4 linked regions of the Homo sapiens genome follow. The protein of the gene in region 4 interacts with the protein of the main gene of each other region in a pairwise test. Each region holds a gene or a part of one and is shown on either strand. Other genes may lie near its edges. The genes, in order: HSPB8, ZYX, SP2 and QRICH1.

Region 1 (7,437 bases), on a different chromosome or scaffold from region 4:
GACTGACCAGGGACAAGCCATAACCCTCGAGGACCCAGGGGCACAGGCTCCCAGATGACAGCCCCTCTCTGAATGAGCACCTAGGCAACACAGTCCGGGGCTGGGTGTAGCAAACCTGTCAGCAGCTGCCTCCTGGGACAACCACCCCCTTACATGCTATCTACCAGAAAAATGAAAGCTCTTCTTACCCCATCTCCCAGGCACCCCCCAGCAAGGGCTCTGAATTCTAAAAACAGCAAAAACATTCAAATGGTTACATGTGAAATGCTGTCCCTCATCTTTCTGTCTCAAAGATAGCAACTGCCCCTCCCCCAGCTCCCCCCACATCCCCCAAACAATTTCTGTGCCAAAATGAAGAGGAGGCCCCAGGCCATGGGGGGCTCCTGGCCACGAGGGGCTGTTGCGGCGGCGCCAGGGCACAGGGTGGGCGAGACACAGCAGAGGTCCTGGCAGCGCGGCCCAGGTCCCCGGCATCTCCTCCCATGGGTCGCGGTTACTTATACAGGGAGAGCGACTGCATTCGTTTTCCTGACAATGTGGCATCATCTTTTGCTTTCCTTTCCTCTTCCTTCTTCCGGGCAGCCTCCTCCCGCTGTTTCCGGATGATGGCCAGCGGGCCAGGTCAGCCTTGGCTTGCTCTGTCTTCCCGGCCAAGTGCATTTTCATGTAACGCTCTTTTGCCTTCTGCTTCTCAATCTCTTCTCGTTCTCTCCTCGAAAGCTCCTTTGGCCCATCCAGATACAGTTGTGTGACCTTTTTGGTTGTCTGTGCCACCTGGTTGGGGTTCTCGATGTTGAAGAGCCCTTCAACGCCTTTGCGGTTTTGCTGGTAGTCATCTTCTTCATCCTCACTCTCATCTGAGTCTAGAGATTTCTTCTCCTTTTTGGGGTCACCTGCAGCCCCATCTCCACCTTCTTTTTGCTCCTCTTCTTCCCTGGCCTTCTGCTTCTCAGCCTGCAGCTGTACGTCGATCTCCTCAGGGCTCCTATACTGCCTCGCCCAGCCTTTGTGGCCTCCCTTTCTCCCTCCTTTAGGCATCGCGGCTCCGCGCAACATTACTTTAAGCCACAGCATTGCTAACTGATGTTGTATATCTAGGTGGTATTACATTTAGTTCCTCATTAAAAGAACCACACAAGGCTAAGAACGTCAGCTCCTTTATTATTATTATTATTATTATTAATTATTTACTGTTATTTACCCCTAAACAACAGCATAACTCAAATAATAATGACACACACGTCCCGCCCATATACACAATACCACTAGCCTATCTGTCAGGCTATCTGGCCTTTGCTTGGTTCCTGATGGAGCTGTCTGGAGACAGCTCCCTCTGTAAAAATCCCGACTTAAACACAGGGGACAGAAGAAAGGGGGGACCTAGGTCAGATCATAAACTGACAGGCTCCCAGCGTCCTTAGGGAGTGCTAATGTGGAAACTTTGAGAACGTGCTGGACACATCTGGGCAGAGGGCAGAAGGCACTGTTTGTTTTTATGTGGTTGATGGATAAATTCCATATGGGGATATAAGACCTGTATATCACCCATTTTAGGCCAGGCATGTGGAAGCACAGTGGGGTTAGCTACTGGGTTTCATTAACCAAACCATGCGGCATGGTTTGGGAGCCATGGGAATCGGGAGCCCAGAGTAGGAACCTGGGTGATGGGGGAGGTCCCCAGAGAAAAGTAACCCTTGCATTCACTGCAAGTAAGATACAACGTGAAATGTTAAGTCCCCTTTTATGTGTTTTGCAACTATAGAATGTGCAACATTTTCATCAAGATAGAAAAGGTAAAGAAAGCAAAACTAGTATTTTGGCCTAACACAACCAAGCATGATTTGCCAATTGCGCTATCCTGTGGAGAAATCTACCACTACACTATCCAGGGAATCTGTGGTCAGTCCTCACCCCCGCACCCTCTAACATTTTACTTGCACTAAATCTGAGTTCAGCTAAAGTAATGTATCCTGGAATCAGAGAAGCCCTAGGGTTGGGGACAAAACAAGGATGGGCCAGTACTGGCATCTCAGGTACAGGTGACTTCCTGGCTGTCCTGGGGAAGCTCGTTGTTGAAACTGCTCTCTCCAAATGTTGAGTAAGGAGGGACCTGGGGAGCTTCGATGATCAGCAGACCCTCTGGGGAAAGTGAGGCAAATACTGTCACAGGATCCACCTCTGCAGGAAGCCTAGGAGAAACACACGATTTTATTCATTTATTGTTGTTAATATTGCTTAAACATTCTTTTATTCACTTGAGAGGAAATATTTTTGATAAGAGCTTAGGCTTTGGGGACATACAATGTTGGGTTTGAATCCTGGCTCTACCCCTTTCTAGCTGTGTGGTCTTGGGAAGATTATTCAGTTGCTCTGAGCTTGTTTTCTCATCTGCAAAATGAGGATAATAATACTGAACTTGTAGAGTATTTGAACTTCAGAGTCTGAGTATGCTTTGCAAATGGTAAAATGCTGTTTGAACAGTAGTTCTTAACTTAAAAGAGAGCTGTGGCCCACATATTTGGTCCCAGGTTGAAGTCATCACCTTAATACCCACTACTGACCACAATTACTAGCAGAAATGGCACCACTACCATCCCTTTATAGAGCGCAAGTAAGGTGTTATCATAACAGGCAACACATTTTCATCTGACATGTGCTTGCTGGAGAGTGCTTCACTACAAAATGCATTAATGGTGATGCAAGCACTAGGTACCTTGGTGGATAAAAGGGGCCAAGCTGGCCACATGTAGATTTCAGATGGCAACATACTCGATGGTATTCAAAATAAGCCTTGATTTTGTTCATACCCTAAGTATCTCTGATGTGGTTTGGCTGTGTCCACCTAAATCTCATATTGAATTGTAGCTCCCATAATTCCCATACGTTGTGGGAGAGGCCTGATGGGAGATAATTGAATCATGGGTAGGGGGCAGTTTCCTCCATACTGTTCTCATGGTAGGGAATAAGTCTCACGAGATCTGACGGTTTTATAAGATTTTTTGCTTGGTTCTCATTTTCTCTCTTGTCTGCTGCCATGTAAGACGTGCCTTTCACCTTTTGCCATGATTGTGAGGCCTCCCCAGCCATGTGGAACTGTGAGTCCATTAAAACTCTTTTTTTCATATATATATCAATTATGTAGTCTCAGGTATGTCTTTATCAGCAGTGTGAAAACAGACTAATACAATCACTTAGCAGATCATTATTATCTTGTTCTTCCTTTTATTTTTTTGGGACAGAGTCTCACTCTGTCACCTAGGCTGGAGTTCAGTGGCGCGATCTTGGTTCACTGCAAGTTCCGCCTCCCAAGGTTCAAGCAATTCTCCTGCCTCAGCCTCCTGAGTAGTGTGGATTACAGACACCCACCACCATGCCTGGCTAATTTTTGTATTTTTAGTAGAGATGGGGTTTCACCATGTTGGCCAGGCTGGTCTCGAACTCCTGACCTTGTGATCCACCCACCTCAGCCTCCCAAAGTGCTGAGATAACAGGCGTGAGCCACCGAGCCCAGCCAATTATCTTGTTCTTAAAACTCAGTTATAGACAATACTTGGTTGGAGTATTGTAAGAGGATGATTAAGAGGTAAGAATTAATATGCCCATTCTACAGATCACTAAACAGAGACTTGGGGGAAATCAAATGACAAGCTCAACAAGTGAGAAAGCATCGAAGATGGAATTTCTAAACCTAAATCTGGTCCAACTTCTAATAAGGTATTTTTATGATTTTTGGATTGCTTTGGGTGAATGAGACTATTGAGAATTTGGTTTCTTCAACAAACTATTAAAACTGTGAGGACATATTAGTGATCTCATTGGGGTGCCATTATTTTTTTTAACCATGAAATCCATGACCTTCTGAGTACTTTCTATGTGCCAGGTACTTTAGCTGAATCATATCATTTTGGTGTTAACAATAATCCCACCAGGCAGATTCCATTGCTATCCCCATCTTACAGATGAGGAAATTGAGACTCAGAGAAGTGAACTGCTTTGCCCAAGGTTGCTCAGCTGGCAAATGGCAGATAGGAAATGGAATTGGAATCCTGGTCTCCAAACTCAGAGTATCTGACCATGATGCTCTCCTGCCTCCCCCAGCACCAGACATTTGAAAGAAGGACTATGGCAGGAAGGACCGGCAGTTCAATCAAAATCTTTCCACTGATCCCTGCTGGCTCTGCCTATTGTAAATACGAGGGTCTTGATGAAAGAACCAAGGCATGAGGTAAGCCCATTCCTGATCATAGGCAGGACTCCTTCTGGAGGGGCTGGGGAGTTTTTTTTTTTTCTTTCTTTCTTTCTTTTTTTGTGGGTACAACAACCTGTAGCCACATGAGCCGTATCTACCCAGGAGATTCCTTGCCAGATTGGAACCATGGAGATGAACAAGGCTGCTTCTGGGAAGCCCATTTGGAAGAAAAAGAGGGAACTAGAAAGCTGCCAAGTCAAGCTTTTGAAGCGGAGACAAAGTCAAAAGTTTAGACCTCCCTCCCAATGCTGGGGATGGGCTGACTGTTTAACCATGTGCACACCAACCCAGTGCACACCAGGTACAGTGTGACAGGGTGGCTATGGCCTAGAGCATGGGTTTTGCAGGCAGGCTGACGTGCATTCAAATTCTGACTCTTCCTGACCACACAACATGGGGCTGGTGATCTTGACTCTTTGAACCTGTTTCTTTGCAGAAAAAAAGGGGGCAATAATAGTACCCACCTCTTAGGGTGGAGTGAGAATTACGTTGCAGTCTTTGACCTTACATGTTGGCATCTTGACAGCAAGATGGAGTATCATACAAATTGCAGGATCATTGAACCACAGAGTATCAGGGCCCCAAAGGATCTTCCTGATTGTCCATGACAATGCTCTTATATTACTTATGGGGAAACTGAAACTCAGAGAGATAGACAAGTCCAAGGTCTCTAACCAAGTGACTTGTATTTAAACCCATTTGGTGGGAAAGTAATTCCTCTTCAGTTCTCTTTCAGTGCTTCTACTTACATCTGAAGGAATGTCTCTGCTAAGTACTAACATGCCTTTAACGCCTTTAGCCTCTATCACTTGCTACCTTCCCTTTTTAACAATGAGAGAGCTGAGGCCCTTAGGCAGGCAATATTATCTAGTTAGAATTTAACCACAGTTTGCTTTCATTGGATTTATTTCATGATCGCTTTCCTCAGTGAACATTTCAGTGATAAGAATTTAACTTTATCAAAAATGAGATGATCTAAAAGAAAAAAAAACCTTTAGTAAATCATGGTACAGCAATGTAAGCATATAAGGCAAAAAATAGTGAAGATGGGATGTGAATGACGGTATTGCAAATGACTGTAATTTGGTTTCCCCTAACCAAATAGGAAGATCATGGACTTTGAAAGCTGAGACCCAAGACCTCTCCCTCTCCTCCTTATTCAGTCCAAATGGGGCTTTTCACACAGAGATGGATGTGTTGAGATGAATTTCCTTGCCATGGTTAAGGCAAACAGCTGCAGCATCCTGCCTGGGTGGAAATCTCCAAGGATCTCAGCCTGGCTGAAGGAATCTCCCTGTCCTCTAATGACTGGAGTTTTCCCTGGGAGAGGAGGCAACGAGGACTCCTGAGATTGGTCCAGAGGTGTCCCAGACCCCAGTTCGACTCCTAGGTGTCTAGAGTCTGGGCAGAGCCAGGAGCTCCCAGGAGTCCCAGCTGCTGGAGTGTGAGTCCAGCCTTGTGAAGCCTTTTCATAATATTAATTCCCATGGACCAAGCCCTGAGTCTGTATTCCATGCTTAATGCGTTATACACATCCTCTCACTCCCATCACAACCCCTCCATGCAGGGATGTGGGAATGGAAGGTCAGAGCAGTTAAGCAAGTTGCCCCAAGTTACCCACTCACTTTCTCATGGAGCCAGGACTCCCTGCACCCGGAGCTGAGATTCAAAATATTTAACAACTAGTGCAGCTGGGCACTGACCATTCAGAAGGGATGGGTGCATGTCATAGTGATGGAGGAGGGTCCTGGGACCCTTTAGTTGTTGGAAGGTGGAGAGGTTTAGAGGGTCCTGGGGACAAGATCAGAGTGACTGGGGTTGGCTAGGGAGGGCTCAGGGCAATAGCTAGCCAATATTCAGGGGTCCCCATCCCCCGGATCATGGACCGGCACCCATCTGTGGCCTGTTAGGAACCAGGCTTCACATCAGGAGGTGAGCAGCAGTTCAGCCAGCATTACTGCCTGAGCTCCGCCTCCTGTCAGATCAGCAGTGGCATTAGATTCTCATAGGAGCTTGAACCCTGTTGTGAACTGTGCATGCGAGGGATCTAGGTTGCATGCTTCTTATGAGAATCTAATGCCCGATGATCTGAGGTGGAACAGTTTCATTCCCCAGTCCATGGAAAAATTGCCTTCTACGAAACTGGTCCCTGGTGCCAAAAAGGTTGGGGACCACTGAATATTTTAACAACTAGCCCAGCTCAGCAGCTGAGCACCAGCCTGGAGCAATTTCAGGCATTTCTCATCAGGTTACTTCCAGCAAGCTATCTCCCCTAAGGCCTTGGAGCATGTGAAATACACACACACACACACACACACACACACACACACACACACCCCTTTTAAGATGATTAATTCACTTCTTTCTTACACAGTCCCTTTTACAGCTATGCCCTGCTTGTGACTCCACCCTGAGACCTCATTTGAGCCTTGACATCAGCTTCCCCCCACCCCCTGCCTTCCTTCCTCTCCCTCAGCAATGTTTAATCTGCTTGCTAAACCAGGGAGAGGTGTGGGGCACGGAGATGCCAGGCAAGCCAGCAAACACGAAGAACAAATGGTTTGGCGTTTGCCTTATCAGGAAGTGTCCACAGGCTTCCAAGAACTGCAGAGGCTGTGGGAGGGCCAGGGACGGACATGTGGGGGAAGAGACAGGAATGTAGAATCCCAAGCTGGAAGAAGCCTCAGAATTCAGCTAGTGTGATCTCTCCACACACAGAATTTCTTTGCAAAGGCTGATGGAAAAGTTAAGAGTCAACAATAACAATAGTAATAATGAACTCCCACTTATGAGGACCTACGCTGGGCCATGACCTTATGTCACTTTCAGCCAGGAACTCTGCAAGGCTGGAATCAGCATCCCTTTCACAGATGAGGAAACAGCATTCCTTGCCCAAGGACTGAGCATGGAACTCAGAGGTCAGGGATCTATTCTGGGCCCTTCTAAATTCTAGCTGTAAAGACCTTGGGTATGTCCTTTCACCTGTGGGAGACTTAGTTTCCCTGTATTGCAAGGAGGGTCATGTCTCCTCTCCGATGCACACTTTTGCTGCAAAGGCTAAATGCAACGATGGCTTGGAAAAGAGTTTAGGGGCCAGGCGCAGTGGCTCACACCTGTAATCCCAGCACTTTGGGAGGCAGAGGCGGGCAGATCACTTGAAGTCAGGAGATCAAGACCAGGCTGGCCAA
Region 2 (8,121 bases), on a different chromosome or scaffold from region 4:
GACTAGGCTATCGGTGCTGCTTCTGCCCACTTTCAGGAGAACCCTGCTCTGCACCCCAGAAAACCTCTTTGTTTTAAAAGGGAGGTGGGGGTAGAAGTAAAAGGATGATCATGGGAGGGAGCTGAGGGGTTAATATATATACATACATACACATATATATATTTTTGTAAATAAACAGGAACTGATTTTCTGCCTCCATCCCACCCATGAGGGCTGCAGGCACTACAAAAGAGCTGACTACTGAGAATTCTGGAAAACAAGGTTTTTTTTTATTTGTAGCTATAGCTACAACTTGGCAGCATGGGGGAGGGTGGGAATGTCCTGGAGGGTCTCCCAGCCCTCCGCAAGCAGAGTACAAAGGCTGCTCGGGGGGCCGGCCGAGGGCGCGGGTGCAGCAGTGAAAGCAGCAGCACTAAACCTGGTGCCCCCCTCAGGTGGGGTGTCTGGAAGACGGTGGGCAATCCCTGCAGGATGGGCGAGGACCAGACCCCAGGGCGGGGATCCTGCATCCCTAGACCATGTTGGGTCCTGGGTCAGGGCACCTGGGATGCTAGGGAGGGGTTGGAAATGGGAGGGGCTAGACATCAAAACAATAACTGAGGTGGGGGCAGGTGGTCTCAGTGTGGGTGGTCCACAATGGGGCATGGACTGCGGTCTGAAGAGGGCCTGTCCTCACTCAGGTCTGGGCTCTAGCAGTGTGGCACTTCCGACAGAGCACGTGACCGTCCAGGGGGAAGCAGCCATTGTCATCTGCCTCAATCGACAGGGGCTTCCCGCAGTCCTGGGAAGAAGGAAGGGTGAGGGGCACTGGACCGGAAGGCCCCTGCTCTGCTCCACCCTACCCCACCCCATCCAGCTCCATCTTGGAATTAGAAAGATGCTTCATGGCTCAGAGCTGGTGTCATCGCTTTTTCCAGCCACACCCAACTCCCCATCCCTATCCTACTTCCAGTCACCCACTAGGACCTTCCTGCAAGAGGGCAAGCAGTGGGTAGAGCTGCTCCCAAGGTGCTTGCTCCCCTGCCCACCACCACCCTAATAAAATAGAGGTTGGCTCACCTCCATTCGAAGACCTCTTCTCTCAGCTCCTGTTTCCCCATCCCCTACCACGGTAAAACACCATGCCCTTCTTCTCTCCTATTGGCTTGTCCCATTTCTTGGCTTATCCATGACTCAAAGTGACCTCAGAAGCCCCACAGCCCCATTTCCTGCAGTGGCAGGAAGCATTCTGGCAGGACAGATGGGGTGCCACCATGAGCCACCCTCAAAATCACAGCCCTGTTTCCTGAATGCTGGTGCTTTCCACCTCCCAGTTAGTAAGCAGCATCTCCCGCCACCTCCTGGTCAGAACCTGCCCAAGGAGTCCAGAGGGATGGCTGACCTCACACTTGTAACACTTCATGTGGAAGTTCTTGTCCAGGGCGACCACTCGCACAGTCTCATCTCGGCCAGGCTCAGGCATGATGGGCTCAGAGCAGACGGAGCACCTCGGGGCGTACTGCCTGGAAGGGGCAGAAAGGGCCAGCCGAGTTAGCCAGGGCTTTCATCCCCGGTGTGCGCACGCATAAGCCAGGTTGGGCAGCAAGGAAGCAGACTTCTCTGCCCTGCATCTCCAGGTGAAGGAAGCTCACCAGAAGGGCCTAAGAGTGAGACACCATGACTGGCCCTCATCAAAGGGAATTTCCTGCCTCACCAGTCACTCTCCCAAAGCAAGGGAGCCTCCCACACACCTGCCACGGTGTTCTCTCCCACTCGACCCTTACTGTCCCATTCACACTGCAGCTCCTGCAGAAAGCCAGCCCTGAGGTACCCCTCCCATCCCATCCTGGGTCCCTGACCCTCACCTTCCCCCAATCCTCCCACCCCCATGCACGTTGCCTCTGCCCTGACTGTCTGGCACTGTGGAGGGATGTGAAGTTGTGGCCACCCCAGATGGAATCCTGAAAGTGTTTACCCAAACACTCTGTCAGAGGTGGGGGTCAGATTCTGCACTGTTCCCACAGCTGCACTGAGGTTCTGCGGGTCAGCCTGAAAAAGTAGCCACCTTCTAAACACTATTTCTGGGGAGAAACCAGAAATCCAAACAGCTGATCTCCAAAAGAACTTTTAGAACCCAGCCTGTGTGTGAGATGAAGTCACTCCAGCACACTTCACGAAATGCTGACATACACCCACAATAAGCTTCAGTGATCAAGGGCGAGGGAGGGACCAGACAGCAGCAGGACTCGATGCCCAGGCCTAAGGCCCCTGGACAGCTACATCCCGATGACTTGGTCCCTGCTGTTTACAGACAGGACATGGGACCAGAAAACACCACCAGGGGTTTGGGGCTGTCCTGAGGCTAGGGTAGCAAGCAGCCGGGCTACCAGACCAAGCACGCCGGGAACCCAGAAGGCAGGTGGCAGGTCCTCACTTGTGGTAGTCGGGGACACAGTGGGGCCGGTTGGCCTGGTCCACGATGAAGGAGGTGCCCTCCAGGGGGCGGGCGCAGACCACACAGGTGAAGCAGTGCGGGTGATAGGCCTTGCCCGTGGCCCTCAGCATGCGGTCAGTGATGGGCTCCCCGCAGGTGTTACACTTCTCCAGGGTGTCCTGAGGAGGCAGCAGGAGGAGGTTGGCAGGGAACCGGCACCCCACAGCAAGCTTCCAGGGCCCGACTGCCCAGCACAGCCCAGCACAGCCCAGCACAGCCCGACTCACAGTGTAACAGCCCTCGCAGTACGGCGCCCCCTCCAGACTGTAGAACTGCTGGCCCTGGAGCTGCTGCGCACACTGGTGGCAGGTGAAGCAGGCGATGTGGAACAGCTGCCCTAGAGCGCGGACGGCTGGCTGCGCCCGGGCCAGGGGTTGATGGCATCGGCCGCAGAGTTCTGGGAAGGCCAGAGAAGACAGCAGTAAATAGAAGGAAGTATGTAGAGCTGCGAGGGATCAGCCAGCTCAGATAGGGAGTGGAGCCACAGCCCTGGCCCCCACCGTGATGTGGGGGCAGGGTGGGGGTGTCCCGGTGGGGTGGGCTCACCGTTGACAGCCACATTCTGCCTCTGAGGATGCTCCATGTCCTGCATTAGCTGCTGGGTCAGCTGCTCCAGCTCCTCCACCTCCTTCAGAGTCAGGGGCCCTGGGGCCCCAGGGGAGCGCACCTGCAATCCCAACATTTTCCTCACACTCTAGAGGGCTGCTGCCTCCAAGAACCTTCCCAGGCCAGCCTACCCGGCTTCTTCCGATGAGGCTTAGCTCCCAGCTCGTGTCCCAGATGCTCAGGCTTGACCCTTAAAGCTTCTCCCTCGTCCCCCTACCCCCGCCATCCCCAGCACCACACAAATAACAGGGGAAGGGACCTAAGCCTGGATCTCGTACAGCAAGACATTTCCACCCACTCTGCCCAAACCCCCTGAGCAGTCACAGACAGGCCAGAATGACTGGGCGGACGGAGGCCACGCACACAGCAGCTCGGGTCACTGAAGCACCGGACACTCCAGGGCCACGCATCAACTCCACAGAGCATGCTCGGACATCGCCCCCATGGGACAGGGGCACGCAATGGCGTGCACACACGCGCACACACACCTACCCGGCCTGCCTGCTGCTGAGCAGCCCCTGTCAGCGTGAGGATACAACACAGGCAGGAATTGCAGGTTAAACCCACTGAGCTGTCTGCAAGAACCCAGCCCCACCCCCACACAGAGACCCTGTCCCTCGAGTGAGGGGCCTCTGAACTACCTCACTCAGGTCCCTCCCCAGCAGCCTCAGAGAAGGTCCAAAGGCCACCCCCTAGGCCAGCCCAACCTTCCCATTTAGGGGATCCCGGGGACTGGAGTGGGGGGTGGATGTTAAGGACAGCGCTGCCAGTAACCCTGAGAGGTAACCCTGAGAACTCCGGGAAGGGCTGTCTGACCTGCATCAGCACTGCCGGGAGACACGCCCACAGGAGCAAGTGCACTGGGTGGGTCTTTTCTATGTCTGGAAAAGCCTACCCAGGACTGTGGCCCCATCACTGAGTGTGCTACCTGCAGATGCCTTCATTCCCATAACACCTGGAACCTCCAAAGCCCCCCTGCTACCTCCTCCCATAGCCCCTCTCCCCTCAGCCCTGGCTTCACTGCCCCTCACCCCGACCCCCATCTGTACCCAGAGTTGCGTCCTTTCTGCCCAGTGAAGCATGCGTCCATATAAGTCCAACTCTCCAGATCTTAGCCATTTTCCCTTAAGATCTTAGCCATCTTCCCTTAAGATCCTACCATCTCTTAACTGACTCGTTCCCTGGAACACTCACTTCAACTTTGTCTCCTCCAATCTTCCCTTCCTGGCCTCTTGGGGACACAGTGAAGGGGCTCAGTCAGTCCTTGCTCTCCAGTGCCATTCTAAATGCCTGGCTCCTCCTTCAGAAGCACAGAATCCTCATCTGCATCACCTCCCATGGGTATCCCCATTCATCAGGACACTCTATCCAGAACTGCCCCCTCTGCCAGCCTGCACCAATGCCACCGCTTCAAACCAAACTTCCGTCCATCTCAGTCATCATCCATCATGGGACATCCTTGACCTCAGATTTACCTCCAAGTCTCTTGCCAGCCATTATCTGCCTCTCCTCTTCCCCATCCACACCTACTACATGAACCCAGAAAAGCCTTAGTTGCCCCCACCCGCAACCCACCCCTGGACTTTGTCCACCATGCCCCAGCCTGGTCCCATGACCATCTAACTCCTACAGGGTTCACTGTCCCTCCGGGCACCTGCAGCCACCCGCAGCTATCCGGCCCAGTCTCCAACCCCAAGTCACACCACCACCCTCTTCCTGTTTCTGCTTCCAAGCTGCAGAAAGCAGTGGAGAGATCACTGAACACTGCAGCGTGAGCTCACAACACTGCAGCACCCGCGCGACCTCCAGCCCAGCCTTCCCCACAGCAGCCGTTCCAGACCTCTCCATCTCCTGAGCCCCCACCTGCTTCGTCCCTTTGCTCGCACCGTGACCTCACCTCCCACATGGTTGAGGACATGGAAGCCAGCCAGCTTAAGCTCCCTCATCGTCCTTCCTATCCACGCTGCAACCACTCTGTCCTTGCTGTCTGGTATGCCTCTGGGGGAGGAGACATCACCAAGATCTCCTCCAGGGACCGAAGCAGCCTGCCCCTGCTCTCCCACAACACTCACCCTCCATCACCTGCTTCCCCGGGTTACACACGTACCTGAGCCCTTCTCCCCTAACTTGCAAAAACCACATATGCTACACCACAGACTCAAACACACACACCCTCACACATACCCACATACCACTCACATGCACACACACATACCAGACCACACACATACACCACTCACATACACTCACACATATACCACACCACACACACACACTCACACATATACCATACCACACACACACACACCACTCACATTCAGATAATACCACACCAGGCCAGGCGCGGTGGCTCACACCTGTAATCCCAACACTTTGGGAGGCTGAGGCAGGCAGATCACTTGAGGTCAGGAGTTCGAGACCAGCCTAGCCAACATGGTGAAACCCCATCTCTACTAAAAAATACAAAAATTAGCCAGGTGTGGTGGAACGTGCCTGTAATCCCAGCTACTTGGGAGGCTGAGACAGGAGAATCGTTTGAGCCAGGGGGGCGGAGGTTGTAGTAAGCATGGGCGACAGCCTGCACTCCGTCTCCAAAAAAAAAAAAAAAAAAAAAAAAAAGATATACCACACCACACGCTCACACACACCACTCACATATATACACATACGCCACTTGTGTGTATTTGTAAGAAAGTATGTATGTGCACCTTCACTTGTGCAATCACACACCATACACATCACAGCCACACTCACACATGCACACACCTTCACTCACACATGCACACATGTACTCATATACACATACTTTCACACAATCACACTACACACATCACACGCCACTCATACATTCATGCTCACACATGCACATACACTCACATACACCATACCCACACCCACACACTAACACACACACACACGCCACTCATATATTCACATATGTGTATATATACACACACACACACCACTGACACACAGTCCTTCCCTTAGTCCTTTAAGACCAGGCTACACCAGCAGCCCCACTTCTCACCACCCACTCTCTCCTCAACTCCTCACATTGTGTTCCCACCACAGGGCACAAACAGGCCATCCCAAGACCGCTGATGATTTCCCAACAGTCTAATCTCTAGCCTTGAGTCCTCACTCCCTCAAATACCCCACTGAGGAGCTCAGCTCTCTTCTCCAAGTGCACCCTGACTCTCCTCCTGACTCTTCTTCCCGCACCTCCTGGTCCCCGCTGTCTGCACTCCCTGGGAAGCTCCTCCGCTCCGACCCTGACCCTCCAGCGTCACAGTGTCACTGTGCCCCACTACCATGCTAGACATCTCTGGCCCTCTCCTGAAACCTAGCCCTGGATTTCTAGCTGAATGACGGCCCCAGCTGAAAGTCCTCCTGGGACCTGTTGCTCAAAACGTTGACAGCTGGACCCCTCCTCTTCCCGTCCAAACCATTTCCCCTTCTGGACTTCTCTATTTTGTCAGCAATCCTGCCATCCGCCCACACCCCATCTCCAAATCGTGCTGGAGACTTTTTTTTCCCTCTTCCCCTCACCCTTGTCTTCCAATTGCTCATCCCTTGCTAAGTCCTGGAGGCTGTGCCTTCCCAACAGCTCTAGCACACAGCTCTCACATGCACGGTTTAATTTTCATTGCAGCTAACATTACTATTGCCCAAGAGTGAATTCACACCCATCACTGACCTCCCTCGAATACACATCTCTGCTGGTGAAACTTTCCAGAAAGCTTCCAAAAACACTGCTTTCACCAGCCCTCCTGACCCACCCCACACCTACTCAAAAATCATGAATGCCTCTCCAGTGCTCAAGAGCTCCTTGGGTGAGCCACTTCACCTCCTACACCCTCCAGCCCCGCTTGCCTCTCCAAGTATAGCTCTATCATTTTCCTACAGGAACCTTCCACTTTCTGTTCTCCAAACATCCCTCTCCTCTCTGGATTCTTACGTCCTGCCCATCCTTCGAAGCCTTTCCTAATTTGACTCCCCGAGTTGACTCCCTGGTCTGAGTGCCTGTGACTCACAGGATTCTGCAAAGCTCACTGGCCCTTGGCATTTCTTCCTATGCTGTGTCCGAGTGTAGGTAGACATCAACACTATCAGTGGACTCTGGATGCTTGGACTAGATGACCATCAGGGTCATCTTCGTCACCAGAAATTGGACGATCTTATTTCCTGAACTAGAAGGCAAGAACCATTTTGTAATTACAGCTTTTCTATTTTGAGCATTCCTGTACTAGATACAGAACCCAACACTCTCTAGGTATTAGCTCACCCAATCTTCACAACCACTGTATGGAGTAGAGAATGTTAAAGATTGAGAAACTGAGGCTCAGGGTTCACCTAACTTGCCCAGTCTAAGGACTTGGGAGAAGCTGAGCCAAGAATTCCATTCCAGGTCCATCTGACACCTGAAGGCTGAGCTTCTTGCAGAGATCTCTTCCCTCCCATGTCCTACCCTCCTGGGCACAGAGCACAGTGCCTGGCACGTGGTGGATGCTGGCTCAACCAGTGTTTACTGGGGCTGTCTCTTACCTCCAAGCCCTCAGGCAGAAAGAGTGCTCAGAGGAGCAGGGAGATTAACTCAAGACCCAAGAATGGGAAAAACCAAGGTGGAACTGGTGATCTCATCCCTCCCTTTAACTTTCTGGGGTAAAGGCACAAGGAAAGGTCCACCAGATCCTCCTAATTCAGAGCCCATGCTCTCTGCGCCGTCCCAGCCAGGCCCCACCCAGCCCCACACCCAGCCAGGCCTCTCCTCCAGAGGAGCATTTTCCTACCATTGTTCCACCAGGCTAACCCCAGAGGATGAAAATTCCTATCCCGCCACCCCGCAACCCCCGTGTCCACCCTGACTCTCCAATCACCTTATGCTTATGCTCTGGCTCCTGACCCAGCCCCGCCCCAGTGCCCTGGTACCAAGCCTTGTCCTATCACCATCCCTCACCTGGTTTTGGTTCTGAGCCGGTGGGGGCACGGGGTGCTGCTTCTCCTGCACTCGGGGCTTCTCCCTCTGCTGGGCATAGGTGAAG
Region 3 (7,031 bases), on a different chromosome or scaffold from region 4:
GACAAATCTCCCTATAGTGTACCCAGGCTCCCCATCCTCATCACCATGATCCACCTGAGATACTGCCTACGGCCTCTAAAACTGCTTCCTGGCCTCTGGCCTCCCCCTTAGTCAGCCTCCACAATTTGGTTAGAAGGCTCTTTTTAAAGTGCAAATCCCATCCAGCTACTCTCCTAATTAACCCCCTCAATTGTTCCCTGATGCTCTTGTGATAAACTTATAAAGGCCAGAACAACCTGTCCCTCCCTGGTCCTCCCTCCTGACCTCTTTCCCTTCCAACTCTCCCAACACACACTTCAGTTTTTCATTTCTGGAATTAAAACACGCCACCCTGTCTCACTTGGAGCCTGAAGCACACTCTCTCCCATTTGCCCGGCCAGCTCCTGTCCTTTAGAGCTCATTTATACTCTCACTCAGCGAAAGCCTTTCCTGACCTCCTCCCACCTCAAATCTGGGGCAGGTGACCCTGCTACCTGCCAGTGCATACTCCAGGCACCCTTCGGCACTGTCCCATCAACACAGAGCTGGGAGTGTGTCCCTGTCCCACGGTCTTTCTAGGCCTGACTTGGGGAGAGCACGTAACAGGAAGAGAGACCTCTGAGCCCTGGCCACCAGGCTGCAGGCTGTTCGACTGTTCCTTTCACTGAGAATGCTACTCTTGAGACCCAGCAAATGAGAAAACGCGCCTACAGAAATACCACAACAGTAGGCTTTAGGAAGCTTTTTCTTCTGGAGAGAACTAGGCTCCATCTCCACAACCCAGGCCTTGGGGGTAACTCGGCTTTTTTTGCCTGTGGGTTCCTGCCATCGTGGGTCTGGCTTTCTTGGCTTTTTGCTATGGTATTTCCCCTGGAGGAATTTCACACTGTGCAAACAGTCTTTCTCTTGGCTATTTTGGTCAGCTCAGCTGGGCCGTAAGCCAACAAAGCAGTTTCTAAGCCCAGGCTTTTCCAGTTGCCTAGCCTGGAAGAATTCAGAGCTGGTGAGGGAAAAGCATGCCCTGGCTGGTTTTAGAGAACAAAGTTGGACCTCAAAGAAAGCTCACAAATGGGGTATGAGAATCCATTTGGATGAAGAAAGCAGCAACCTTGGTAGTGAAAGACTCCAAATTGTGCTGAATATTTCAATGAGAGGCAAACCTCAGCAATCATAATAACTATTATAAGGTGGGCACGGTGGCTCATGCCTGTAATACCAGCACTTTGGGAGGCCGAGACAGGAGGATCACTTGAGGCCAGGGGTTCAAGACTAGCCTGGGCAATACAGCAAGATGCCATCTCTACAAAAAATGTTTACAAACTAGCTGGGTGTGGTGGTGTGTGCCTGCAGTCCCAGCTCCTTAGGAGGCCAAGGCGAGAGGATTGCTTGAGTCCAGGAAGTCGAGGCTGCAGTGAGCCATGATTGCACCACTGTGCTCTGGCCTGAATGACAGAGTGAGACCCTGTCTTTAAAAAATAATAATAAAAATTTTAAATAAACAAATAAATTAAAACCATGGTAAAAGAGCCCATTAACAGTAAAACAAATTTCAATGGCTTTCATTTCAATGAGAACAACTCTGGGCCGTGGCTTGCTAATGCCACAGGCCGAAGTAAGCAAGAAGGTGAGTAAGGAATGGAGATCTTGTCTCCACATTAACCCTTTACTGAGCCTCCCATCTCCCCCCACTCCGCCATCTCAGACCCCCAGCCTCAGGCAATGACCCTTAGGTATGTCTACAATTTCATCAAGAAGTTAAAATTTCCCTCATCAGCTAAGATCCATTATGTCTCCCCTTCTCTTCAAGCAAAACTCCTTGCAGGAGTTACCTATACTTACTGTCCTTAATTTCTCTCCCGCTAGCTTTTCTTAAACCTGCTCCAACCAGGCTGCACCCTCCTCATGCATGCCACGAAAACTGTTCACACCACCAGACACCTCCATGTTGCTAAAAACCTAATGGCTACTTCTACTTCTTTTTTTTTTTTTTTTTTGGGACAGAGTCTCACTGTCACCCAGGCTGGAGTGCAGTGCCACAATCTCAGCTCACTGCAAGCTCCGCCTCCCGGGTTCACGCCATTCTCCTACCTCAGCCTCCCGAGTAGCTGGGACTACAGGTGCCCGCCACCACACCTGGCTAATTTATTTTTGTATTTTTAGTAGAGACAGGGTTTCACTGTGTTAGCCAGGATGGTCTCGATCTCCTGACCTCGTGATCCGCCAGTCTCAGCCTCCCAAAGTGCTAGGATTACAGGCATGAGCCACTGCACCTGGCCTACTTCTTTTTTTTTTTTGAGACAAAGTCTCGCTCTGTTGCCAGGCTGGAGTGCAGTGGCACAATCTCAGCTCACTGCAACCTCCGTCTCCCGGGTTCAAGTGATTCCCCTGCCTTAGCCTCCTGAGTAGCTGGGAATACAGGCGTGTGCCACCACGCCCGACTGATTTTTTGTATTTTAGTAGAGACAGACAGGGTTTCACCATGTTGGCCAGGATGGTCTCAATCTCCTGACTTCGTGATCCGACCACCTCGGCCTCCCAAAGTGCTGGGATTACAGGCGTGAGCCACCGCGCCGGCCATGGCTACTTCTTAAACCACGTCATCCGTGTTGCTCTGACAGTTGATTGCTCTTCCTTTTGGTCTTGGCTCGCTGCAACCTCCGCCCCCCGGTTCAAGTGATTCTGCTGCCTCAGCCTCCCAGGTAGCTGGGATTACACGGGCCTGACACCACGCCCGGCTAATTTTTTGTATTTTTAATAGAGTTGGGGTTTCACCATGTTCGCCAGGCTGGTCTCGAACTCCTAACCTCAAGTGATCTGCCCGCCTCGGCCTCCCAAAGTGCTGGGATTACAGGCGTGAGCCACCGCGCCTGGCCTCTTCTTCCTTGAAACACTTTCTTTACTTGGCCTCTAGGACACACTTGCTAGTCTCTGGCTAACTTCTCCCATATCTCCTTTGCTGGTTCTTCCTCTCCTCTCAAATTCTAAATGATTGGGTTGCCCCAGGACTCTGTCTCAGGACCTTTCTTCTGTCTACACCTGTTTCCTAGCTGATTTTGTCTAGTCTCGTGGGTTTAGAAACCAGTAAGATACAGATTCTATATAATTTTAACTCTCACATTTCTATCTCGACTGGTATATCCAACTGCCTACTGATAGCTCCACTTGGATGTATTAATAGGCATCGTAAATCTAACTAGCCCCAGCTGGGCGCTGTGGCTCACGCCTGTAATCCCAGCACTTTGGGCGGCCGAGGCAGGTGGATCACCTGAGGTCAGGAGTTGGAGACCAGCCTGGCCAACATGGCGAAACCTCGTCTCTACTAAAAATACAAAAATTAGCCGGGCGTGGTGGTGCCCGCCTGTAATCCCAGCTCCTTGGGAGGCTGAGGAAGGAGAATCGCTTGAACCCGGGAGGTGGAGGTTGCAGTGAGCCAAGATTGTGCCACTGCACTCCAGCCTGCGTGACAGGAGCAAAACAACATCTCAAAAAACAAAACAAAACAAAACAAAAATCTAACTAGCCCCAAACAGTGCTCCCGATATTGTCCTAATCCTGTGACTCCTTCAAAATTCGCCACTGCAGTGAATGAATAGTAACTTCATCTTTCCAGCTCCTCAGCCTTAAAACCTTGGGAGTTATCCTTATCTTTTTTCCACACCCTACACTTGACAGCAAACACTCTATCTTCAAAATATATGCCCAATCTGACTGCTTCTACCACCTCCTCTGTCATCACCTAGGTCCAGGTTTCTATCATGTCTCCCACGGATTAACCTCCTAGCTGTGCTTCTGACCTTGACCCCATCAGTCTATTCTCAACACATCCAGAGTAAGACCCATCACACTTAAATGAAACCATGTTATTTCTCTGCTCAGAGGCCCCCAATACCATCCCATCTCCCACTCAAAGTAAAAGCCAAAATCTCCATTGTGACACAAAAGGCCCCTGTGTGACCTAACCTCTTTCACCTGCCCTGTCACTCTCCCTCTCTCACTGCTTTAGCCATGCTGGCTCCCTGCTGTTCCTGAACATACCAAGTATGGCCCCTGCTGAGGGTCTTTGCATTGCTCTTCTCTCTGCTGAGTTCTCACCCTCCTCCCCTCACCCCAGATAGAAAAAGGCTCAATCTCCTCCCCACTCCTTCAGGGTTTTACTCGGATGTCACCTTATCATTGAGACCTTCCCTGATCACCCTATGTAAATTGCCACCCCCCTTTTTTTACCTTATCCTCATTTTGCCTCCTTAGCACTTCTCACTGTCTAACAAATATCTATTAGTTATTAATTGTCTCCCACTAAGATGTAAGCTTCCTAAAGGCAGGGACTTCTCTGCCTTACTCACTGATGTATCCCAGTCCCTGGCACATGGTAGGTGCTTAATAATCTATATTTGTTGAATAAGTGAATGAATAAATCCTGGAGGCTTTAGAGCAGGAGGGCCTAAAGCGAGTTTAGGAACCAAAGGAGAAAAGCTGCAGATTTGCATATCCTGGCACTAGGTCAGGATCCACTCCACAGCTGGGTTTAGCTGACCCAGACCCTGGTGGAACCCTCAACCCCACCAGTCACCTCACATGTGGGCCAGTGCAGTCCAGTCCTGCTCCTGGCCAAAAACTTCAAAGCGCACGCCTCTCATCACCACACACCAGGTACTACTGCATTTCAATGCTTCTCTCAACTGATATGCATTATTAATGCTTCTCTCCATTGACATGCATTGGCAGAGCCGGGATAGCACCACTGCACTCCAGCCTGGTGACAGAGCGAGACTCTGTCTCAAAAAAAACCAAAACAAAAAACAAAAAAAACAAAGCCAGGCACGGTGGCTCACGCCTGTAATCCTAGCACTTTGGGAGGCTGAGGCGGATGGATCACGAGGTCAAGAGTTGGAGACCATCCTGGCCAACACAGTGAAACCCCGTCTCTTCTAAAAATACAAAATTAGCTGGGTGTGGTGGCACGTGCCTGTAGTCCCAGCTACTCTGGAGGCTGAGACAGGAGAATCGCTTGAACCCGGGAGGCAGAGGTTGCAGTGAGCCAAGATTGCGCCATTGCACTTCAGCCTGGTGACAGAGCGAGACTCCGTCTCAAGAAAAAAAAAAAAAAGATAACGAAGGCACTTGAATTTGAATACCGCCTATCTGTCTCCACCCTTAATTCTTCTTTCCAAAACGTGACTGTCATTTGCTAGTTTGCATCCTGACTGCGTCACATCCCATTGTACTGGAAGGGACTCTGGAAGTGTGTGGGGGTGGGGGCAGCATAGGGTGAAGAGAACCTGATCAAAGCAGGCCCAAGAAACAGCATCAAGTTTTTTTGTCAAAGAATACTGGGCCTCAGAATTTTAGAGAACAGGAGAAAAAAAAGAAGCAAGATATACTTTTTCCCCTAAAGAATCTCTTTATGTGCTTTGGCACATTTATTTGTGAGTCACTCCCCACATTTATCCTGGGCCATGATCAGTGTTTTGTTTTTGTTTGAGATGGAGTCTTGCTCTGTTACCCAGGCTGGGGTGCAGTGGTGCGCTCTCGGCTCACTGCAATCTCCGCCTCCTGGGTTCAAGTGATTCCCGTGCCTCAGCCTCTGCAGTAGCTGGGACTACAGGCGTGTGCCACCACACATGGCTAATTTTTGTATTTTTAGTAGAGATGGGGTTTTGCCATGTTAGCCAGGCTGGTCTCGAACTCCTGACCTTAAGTGATCTGCCTGCCTCAGCCTCCCAAAGTGCTGGGATTACAGGCGTGATCACCCAGCCCGGCCCCAGGCCAGAATCAGCTTCTGAAATGAGTGGTGATTTCATTTCCCCTGAGAAGACAGGGCTGGCTTACCATTTACTTTTTTGGAGGCTGGGAAATGTCTTGGTCTGTTTTCTTCTAGGCTGATCTAAGAAGATTCCTAATTATCAATTGAGAGCAGAGATATTCCACTTCCAATTACATGGCCTGCCTGCTCACTCTTACTTCCTATTCACACTCTCTTGGAGACCACTTTGTGATTCTACCAAATTCTATAGGAGAGGTGACAACCCCAAAGAGAAGGCTCTAGAAAGATGACATTTGGAAATGTGTACGCTAGTGTCTGCTGGCTCCTCCTGAGCCATTTTTACTCTGTGAATGAGATCAAAGGCCACCTAACTGCCTAAATCACCACAAAGGGACAAACTGGTATCTCAGAGCACTCAGCAACAAAAACAAGAAAGCTAAGCCTCTGCACTGCAATGTGGCAGGGCTTCTGGCTAAGTATAGCAAGCAATTCTGATGTGGAGACAAACAGCAGCAATGGGAATGATATGCCAATGAAGGATTCCAACAGTTGGGTCTGCAAGTGTGCTTGTCCTGTGACACAAACGGCCTAGACATCTCAGCACTGCTTGGAGCTGCTCATTGGGGGAGCCTAAGAAACATCAGCCCTTTCACAACCTCTTGCTCCTGAGCAGAGCTCATCTCCCAAGAGCACATCAGCCCGCAGCCCAGTCTGATGAGAAGCACAGTATTCCCCTGTGCCAGTGGCAGCCTCAGAGCATCCTGAAAGAGCGCTTCCTAGACACGCAGTGGAAGCCATGACTTCCCCTAAGCTGCCGGTGCTGCCTCTGAACTCATGTGGAGGTTCTTTTTTCAGTGTCCCCAGAGGCAGCAGAAAAATCCGTTTTCCATTTTGGAATCTATCAAGTAGGACAAATCTGCCACCTGGGAGCATCTCCTCAAGGGCAATCTCTGCTCCCTTTCCTACATGGCCTGACAATACCCTCGAGTTAGAAATGTCCCATGTTGGCTAGGCACAGTGGCTCATGCCTGTAATCCCAGCACTTTGGGAGGCTGAGGTGGGAGGATTGCTTGAGGCCAGGAGTTTTGAGACCAGCCTGACATAGAGAGACTATGCCTCTATTATTTTAAAAAAAGAAATGTCACATATTTTTACCCTCTTCACTCATCTTTCCACCTTGCTCCAATAGATTGCTGACAGAAAAGTGAGACCTCCTCCACCCCAAGGTCTCCTAAGAGAATGCTGCTAGCCAAAAAAAGATCTGCTGATAATTGAGGAAGAGCATCTT
Region 4 (8,121 bases):
AAATAGTGGTTTAATTTTCTTGTAAATTTGAATTGCTCTAGGAAAGTAACCAAAGTCAGGGGCTCTGGATGTGGCTGCCTTTCTTTAAGGCAGCTTCAGAATCAGGGATGTCTTTCCTTACTTTGGATATGCTTTTTTTTTTGGATATGCTTTCTTTTAGTTTAATTAGTTGTGGTTTATACTTCATGTGCCATATTTCTTTCTTGTCTGCTTTTTAAATGGCCACTCTTGATCTGTAAGGGTCTCTGATTTCTGAATTAGCCTTAGAATTAGGTGTTACATGAATACCTGTTCTTTTCTTTTTATTTTTATTATTATTTTTTGAGACGGAGTCTCGCTCTGTTGCCCGGGCTGGAGTGCTGTGGTGCAATCTTGGCTCACTGCAACCTCTGCCTCCTGGGTTCACGCCATTCTCCTGCCTCAGCCTCCGGAGTAGCTGGGACTGCAGGCTCCCGCCACCATGCCTGTCTCATTTTTTGTATTTTTTAGTAGAAACGGGGTTTTACTCTGTTAGCCAGGATGGTCTCAATCTCCTGACCTCGGGATCCTCCCACCTTGGCCTCCCAAAGTGCTGGGATTACAGGCGTGAGCCACCGCGCCTGGCCTATTACCTGTTCTTTTCTGTTATTCTGTTGTACTGCATTTTGTTCCAGATGTTTTAAGTCCTCTTCAGACTTCACTTAAATGCTTCCTTTGTATTTTTTCCTAGTTATTACATTAGATTGTGATTTCTGTTATTAAATTGATGTGGCTGCATGAAGAAATGGTAGATTAATTTCTTCCTTTGCTGAAAGAGGGAAGGAGTGCTCCTTTGGTCTCACTCTTCAGGCCAGGGCAAAACTGTAGGTAGAAATGGTGGCTGTGTCAGAAGGCTAATATTTTTCTCTTTTTCTCTTTTCTCTTTTTTTTTTTTTTTTGAGATGGAGTTTCACTCTTGTCGCCCAGGCTGGAGTGCAGTAGCACGATTTCGGCTCACTGCAACCTCCACCTTCCGGGTTCAAGCAATTCTCCTGCCTCAGCCTCTGGAGTAGCTGGAATTACAGGTGCCCGCCACCACGCTGGGCTAATTTTTTTTTTTTTTTTTTTTGAGACGTAGTCTCGCTCTGCTGCCCAGGCTGGAGTGCAGTGGCACGATCTCGGCTCACTGCAAGCTCCACCTTCTGGGTTCACGCCATTCTCCTGCCTCAGCCTCCCGAGTAGCTGGGACTGCAGGTGCCTGCCACCATGCCCGGCTAATTTTTTGTAGTTTTAGTAGAGACGGGGTTTCACCGTGTTAGCCAGCATGGTCTTGATCTCCTGACCTCGTGATCCGCCCGCCTCGGCCTCCCACAGTGCTGGGATTACAGGCGTGAGCCACTGTGCCCGGCTGATGTCTGGCTAATTTTTTGTATTTGTAGTAGAGACGGAGTTTCACTATGTTGGTCAGGCTGGTCTTGAACTCCTGACCTCGTGGTCTGCCTACCTTGGCCTCCCAAAGTGCTGAGATTACAGGCGTGAGCCACTGCGCCCGCCCATGTTTTTCTTTGTTTTAAAATTTGTGAAATATTTATCCATCCATGTAAATTTAGGCGATCTCTGTACAATTTAATGACAAATTATAAAGTAAATGCTGGCGAAAGTACTACTTTTTCAAGAAATAAAACGATGCCAGTATCTCTGAACCCTTCGTGGGTCCCTTCCTGATCACAGCTTCTCAAGCCGTACAGACAGCTGTTATTCTGTGATAACATTCTTCTTCTTTTTACATTTACCATCTCCGTAGCCCTTAACCTAGTTTAGATTTGTTTCCTTATGAGTTTTGTATAAATGGAGTCATGCTGTATTATGTTGTCTTAGCATAATGTTTCTGAAATTTGTTCACATTGTGTGCAGCTGTTCATTTCCATTTTTTATGTAGTATTCTGTTGTATGAATACACCATAAGGTATTTATCTATTCCACTATTGATAGATATCTGGGTTGCTTCCAGCTTTTGGCTCTTAACAATGCTGCTGTGAACATTCTTGTATTAAGTACCCTTGTTTAAAAAAAAGTTCCTTCATATATACTGATGGGTAAAATTGCTCAGGTTCGTGGAATGGATATTTTCAGCTTCACTAGATAATGCAAGTGGTTGTGCCAGTTTACAATCCGTCAATATTTGGGAAAAATACAAATTTTAGTTTCCTGATTGAAAATAGAACCATGGCCGGGTGCAGTGGCTCATGCCTGTAATCCCATTACTTTAGGAGGCCAATGCGGGCGGATCACCTAAGGTCAGGAGTTCCAGACCAGCCTGGCCAACATGGTGAAATCCCGTCTCTACTAAAAATACAAAAATTAGCAGGGCATGGTGATGGGCGCCTGTAATCCCAACTACTCGGGAAGATGAGGCAGGAGAATCGCTTGAACCTGTAGGCGGAGGTTGCAGTGAACTGAGAGGGCACCATTGCACTCCAAGCTGGGGGACAGAGCGAGACTCCATTTAAAAAAAAAAAAAGAAAAGAAAAAAAGAAAATAGAACCGTGATGAAAATGCCCCTAAACCAGGGACTCCTCTGGCATGGGGCATATAAATGGCCTAATGGGATAACTTCTATCACAAACCCTGCAGTTGGCTAGTATCCTTAAAAATCGAAATATGGGTGGAACACAGTGCCTCATGCCTGTAATCCCAGCAGTTTGGGAGGCCAAGGTGGGAGGATTGCTTGAGCCCCGGAGTTGGAGACCAGCCTGGGCAAGATGGCAAGACCCCATTTCTACAGAAAAATAAAAATAGCTGGATGTGGTAGCATGGACCTGTAGTCCCAGCTACTCGGGAGGCAGAGGCAGGAGGATTGTTTGAGCCCAGGAGTGTGAGGCTGCAGGGATCTATGAATGCACCACTGCATTTTATCCTGGGTAGTGGAGCAAGACCTTGTCTCATTAAAAAAAAAAAAAAAAAAAAAACAGACAAAAGCCTGGTGCAGTGGCTCAGGCATGTAATCCCAGCACTTTGGGAGGTCGAGGGGGGCCGTGGAAATGAACTCCTCACCTGAGGTCAGGAGTTCGAGAACAGCCTGGCCAATATGGTGAAACCCCGATTCTACTAAAAATACAAAAAAATTAGCTGGGCTGGGTGGCGTGCGCCTGTAGTTCAAGCTACTAGGGAGGCTTGAGGCAGGAGAACCACTTGAACCTGGGAAACGGAGGTTGCATTGAGCCGAGATGATGCCATTGCACTCCATCCTGGGTGAGAAAACGAGACTTCGTCTCAAAAAAATAAAAATACAAAGAAACAAAACCCAGGCAAAAGAATAGAAATACGTCAATTCTGGTCGGGCACGGTGGCTCACGCCTGTAATCCCACCACTTTGGGAGGCCGAGGCGGGCAGATCATGAGGTCAGGAGATCGAGAGCATCCTGGCTAGCACGGTGAAACTTTCTCTCTACTAAAAAATACAAAAAAATTAGCTGGATGTGGTGGCGGGCGCCTGTGGTCCCAGCTACTTGGGAGGCTGAGGCAGGAGACTGGCGTGAACCCGGGAGACAGAGCTTGCAGTGAGCCGAGATTGTGCCACTGCATTCCAGCCTGGGTGACAGAGTGAGACTCTGTCTCAAAAAAAAAAAAATAAATGAAATAAAATGAATATATTCACATGGAAAAAAAATCAATTTCCATTTTAAGGAGTCATGTCTGTCTTATAAACATATGGAGTTATTTCAAAGAAGCATAGAAGACATTGTTCTTTTTTTTTTTTTTTTTTTTTGAGATGAACCTCCGCCTCCTGAGTTCAAGCAATTCTTCTGCCTCAGCCTCCCGAGTAGCTGGGACTACAGGCGCATGGTACCCCGCCTGGCTAATTTTTGTATTTTTAGTAGAGATGGGGTTTCACCATGTTGGCCAGGCTGGTCTTGAACTCCTGACCTCGTGATATGCCCGACTCGGCCTTCCAGCGTGCTAGGATTACAGGCATGAGCCACTGCACCTGGCCTATTTTTTTATTTTTATTTTTTTTAAATTTATTTTTCTTATTATTTTTTGAGATGGAGTCTTGCTCTGTTGCCCAGGCTGGAGTGCAGTGGTGCGATCGTGGCTCACTGCAACCTTCGCCTCCCGGGTTCAAGTAATTCTCCTGCCTCAGCTTCCCTAGTAGCTGGGACTACAGGCACCACACCTGGCTAATTTTTGTATTTTTAGTAGAGACAGGGTTTCACCATATTAGCTAGGCTGGTCTCAAACTCCTTGTGATCTGCCTGCCTCAGCCTCCCAAACTGCTGGGATTATAGGCGTGAGCCACTGTGCCTGGCCTATTTTATTTTATTTTTTTGAGACAGAGTTTTGCTCTTGTTGCCCGGGCTGGAGTGCAGTGGCGCGATCTCGGCTCACTGCAACCTCCGGCTGCTGGGTGCAAGTGATTCTCCTGCCTCAGCCTCCCGAGTAGCTGAGGTTACAGGTGCCCACCACCACGCCTGGCTAATTTTTGTGTTTTTGGTAGAGATGGGATTTCACCACGTTGGCCAGACTGGTCTTGAACTCCCAACCTCAGGTGATCCGCCCACCTCAGCCTCCCAAAGTGCTGGGGATTACAGGCGTGAGCCACTGCACCGGGCCCCATATGAATGTATTCAAACTGGACTAAGCTATGAAGAGCCATTGTTGGAGTAGATGTGAACCTTGAGGGGCCTCAAAGCCCAAGGAAGAGGTAAGGTTCTGAGGCAGTTCAGACTTCTTTTAGTCCATCACGGATTGAAGACTCACTCTGCAGAGCCATACAGGGGGCCCAAAAGAGGTATCAGGGATAAGAAACCCAAGAAACAGTGATTGCAATAAGATCTTCCCTTGGTACCTAAACGGAAAAAAGAAAAAAATTAGCAAACAGACCTATAGAAATGTAATAGATTGTTGTTTTGGAGTAACCTTTGTCCATGGTACCATCTTATGTTCTAATAATAAAATAATAAAAATAATAACTCATGTAGTGAAGAATTGCTGTGCATCAGGCACTATGCTAAGCTCCAGTAGGAGGAAATACAGAGGAGCCAGGCGCAGTGGCTCACACCTGTAATCCCAGTTTTGGGAGGCTGAGGATCACGAGGTCAGGAGATCGAGACCATCCTGGCTAACACGGCGAAACCCCGTCTCTACTAAAAATACAAAAAAATTAGCCGGGCGTGGTGGTGGGTGCCTGTAGTCCCAGCTACTTGGGAGGCTGAGGCAGGAGAATGGTGTGAATCCAGGAGGTGGAGCTTACAGTGAGCCGAGATCGCACCATTGCACTCCAGCCTGGGCGACAGAGTGAGACTCCATCTCAAAAAAAAAAAAAGAAAAAGAAAAAGAGGGAGATACAGAGGAGATACCAGTGAACAATTTGATTTTATACCAGCAAAAATGTCCAGGGTCTGTTTAAGGGAGGGCTGGCTTTCCTTTATTGTTACTTATTTTTTTTTTTTTACAATGCAGCTATATTTAAAAGCGTTTAGAAGTAAATGCTTGTTTACAGACCTCATACACCCCAAGAGCATTAGAGTATTTTCTTTTTTCATTATTAGTCTCATCAGAGTCCCAGAAATTGGGAACACTCAGATATCCTCATGGCTGCATGTTTTTCAGAAATACTTTAATTAATTTCTTTATTGCTTCTTACTAAGTCTTTTACTTGGAGCTAATTAAGAATCTTTTGTCTCTTTTAGAAGTTTCTCCATTTCTCTTTATTACGAAGGCTCAACTTTTGTGTCTTATGTGCAGCATCTTGAAGTTAAGTCTTCATTATTTTGTACAAGTTTTTGGTATTTTATGGTTTAGTTTCTTTTTCTTTTTTTTTTTTTTGAGATGGAGTTTTGCCCTTGTTGCCCAGGCCGGAGTGCAGTGGCATGGTCTTGGCTCACTGCAACCTCCACCTCCCAGGTTCAAGCGATTCTCCTGTCTCAGCCTTCCGAGTAGCTGGGATTACAGGCACGTGTCACCACACCTGGCTAATTTTTTTTGTATTTTTAGTAGAGGCGGGGTTTCATCATGTTGGTCAGGCTGGTCTCAAACTACTGACCTCAGGTGATCCACCCACCTCGGCCTCCCAAAGTGCTGGGATTACAGGTATGAGCCACCTCGTTCGGCAGGTTTAGTTTCTTTCAGATTTTGAAAGAAAATCGTACTATGATCAACCAGAATTACGTGTCTGTTACCATTACTACACTATAACCACTTGTATTTTTAGTAGAGATGGGGTTTCACCGTGATAGCCAGGATGGTCTCGATCTCCTGACCTGGTGATCCGCCTGCCTCGGCCTCCCAAAATGCTGGGATTACAGGCATGAGCCACCTCTTTCGGCCGGTTTAGTTTCTTTCAGATTTTGAAAGAAAATCATACTATGATCAGCCAGAATTATGTGTCTTACCATTACTACACTATAGCCACTGTGTAGAAAAAGATGATTTTTTTTTTTTTGAGACGGAGTCTTGCTCTGTCGCCCAGGCTGGAGTGCAGTGGCACGATCTTGGCTCACTGCAAGCTCCACCTCCCAGATTCACACCATTCTCCTGCCTCAGCCTCCCGAGTAGCTGGGACTACAGGCGCCCAACACCACACCCGGCTAATTTTTTTGTATTTTTAGTAGAGACGGGGTTTCACCGTGATAGCCAGGATGGTCTCGATCTCCTGATCTGGTGATCTGCCTGCCTCGGAAAGTGCTGGGATTACAGGCGTGAGCCTTAGATTAATACCACTTGTGGAAAATTCAGAAGAGTGTTTAACAGAAGAAACTTAATTACTCTGTGGTTCCATCATCTAGGCATAACTACTGTTAGCATTCCTTTTTATCATTTTTTGAGGTGGAGTCTCACTCTTTCCCCAGGCTGAAGTGCAGTGGCGCAGTCTCAGCTCACTACAACCTCCGCCTCCCGGATTCAAGCAATTCTCCTGCCTCAGCCTCTAGAGTAGCTGGGATTACGGGTGGCTGCCACCATGCCCTGTTAGTTTTTGTATTTTTAGTGGAGATGGGGTTTCACCATGTTGGCCAGGCTGGTCTCACAATCTTGGCTGGATGTGATGGCTCACGCCTGTAATCCTAGCACTTTGGGAGACCGATGCTGTGGATCGCTTGAGGTCAGGAGTTTGAGTACATCCTGACCAACATGGCGAAATCCCGTCTCTACTAAAATACAAAAATTAGCTGGGCATGGTGGCGGGTGCCCGTAATCCCAGCCACTTTGGAGGCTGAGGCAGGAGAATTGCTTGAACCTAGGAGGCGGAGGTTTCAGTGAGCCAGGATCGTGCCACTACGCTCCAGCCTGGGCGACAGAGCAACACTGTGTCTCAATAAAAATAAAAATAAAAAAGAATTTAGGCTGGGTGTGGTTGCTCATGCCTGTAATCCCAGCACTTTGGAAGGTGGAAGCGAGTGGATTACCTGAGGTTAAGAGTTCGAGACCAGCCTGGCCAACATGGCAAAACCTCATCTCTACTAAAAATATAAAAATTAGCCGGATGTGGGCCGGGTGCGGTGGCTCATACCTGTAATCCCAGCACTTTGGGAGGCTGAGGCGGGTGGATCATGAGTTTAGGAGTTCAAGACCAGCTTGGCCAAGATGGTGAAACCCTGCCTCTACTAAAAATACAAAAATTAGCCAGGCACGGTGGCAGGTGCCTGTAATCCTAGCTACTCGGGAGGCTGAGGCAGGAGAATCGCTTGAACCTGGGGGGCACGGAGGTTGCAGTGAGCCAAGATTGTGCCTCCTGGGTTCAAGCGATTCTCCTGCCTCAGCCTCCCAAGTAGCTGGGACTACAGGTATGCAGCACCACACCTGGCTAATTTTTTTTTTTTGAGATGGAGTCTCACTCTGTCACCCAAGCTGGAGTGCAGTGGCATGATCATAGCTCATTGCAGGCTCAAACTGCTGGGATCAAGCCATCCTATCCTCCTGCCTCGGCCTCCCAAGTAGCTGGGACTACAGGCGAGAACCACCATGCCAAGCTTAGTATTGATATTTTCTAATGGTTTTATGGAATTTTTCCTACCTCAAGCTTGTTTGTCTTTTAAATTATTACTATTATTTCTAAGAGATGGGATCTCACTGTGGTGCCCAGGTTGGAGTGCTGTGGCTATCCACAGACAGGATTCTACTACTGCAGTATGGAAGTTTTGACCTGCCCCATTTCCAACCTGG

Evidence for each region.
Region 1: the proteins of QRICH1 (region 4) and HSPB8 interact in binary tests that used the Homo sapiens proteins (3 or more experiments, as listed by UniProt).
Region 2: the proteins of QRICH1 (region 4) and ZYX interact in binary tests that used the Homo sapiens proteins (3 or more experiments, as listed by UniProt).
Region 3: the proteins of QRICH1 (region 4) and SP2 interact in binary tests that used the Homo sapiens proteins (3 or more experiments, as listed by UniProt).

The regions. Positions count from the first base shown.
Region 1 is NC_000012.12:119,188,451-119,195,887, reverse strand, and holds the end of HSPB8 (heat shock protein beta-8), read right to left. Parts: intron 2,190-7,437; coding exon 2,030-2,189; 3' UTR 1,142-2,029; downstream 1-1,141. UniProt on the Homo sapiens protein: Involved in the chaperone-assisted selective autophagy (CASA), a crucial process for protein quality control, particularly in mechanical strained cells and tissues such as muscle. Displays temperature-dependent chaperone activity.
Region 2 is NC_000007.14:143,383,238-143,391,358, reverse strand, and holds the end of ZYX (zyxin), read right to left. Parts: coding exon 8,037-8,121; intron 7,270-8,036; coding exon of another isoform or gene 7,258-7,269; exon of another isoform or gene 5,974-7,257; intron 3,141-5,973; coding exon 3,020-3,140; intron 2,871-3,019; coding exon 2,701-2,870; intron 2,593-2,700; coding exon 2,414-2,592; intron 1,503-2,413; coding exon 1,382-1,502; intron 782-1,381; coding exon 677-781; 3' UTR 248-676; downstream 1-247. UniProt on the Homo sapiens protein: Adhesion plaque protein. Binds alpha-actinin and the CRP protein. Important for targeting TES and ENA/VASP family members to focal adhesions and for the formation of actin-rich structures.
Region 3 is NC_000017.11:47,899,205-47,906,235, reverse strand, and holds part of SP2 (transcription factor Sp2), read right to left. Parts: exon of another isoform or gene 5,858-7,031; intron 1,201-5,857; exon of another isoform or gene 1-1,200. UniProt on the Homo sapiens protein: Binds to GC box promoters elements and selectively activates mRNA synthesis from genes that contain functional recognition sites.
Region 4 is NC_000003.12:49,083,425-49,091,545, reverse strand, and holds part of QRICH1 (transcriptional regulator QRICH1), read left to right. Parts: intron 1-8,121. UniProt on the Homo sapiens protein: Transcriptional regulator that acts as a mediator of the integrated stress response (ISR) through transcriptional control of protein homeostasis under conditions of ER stress.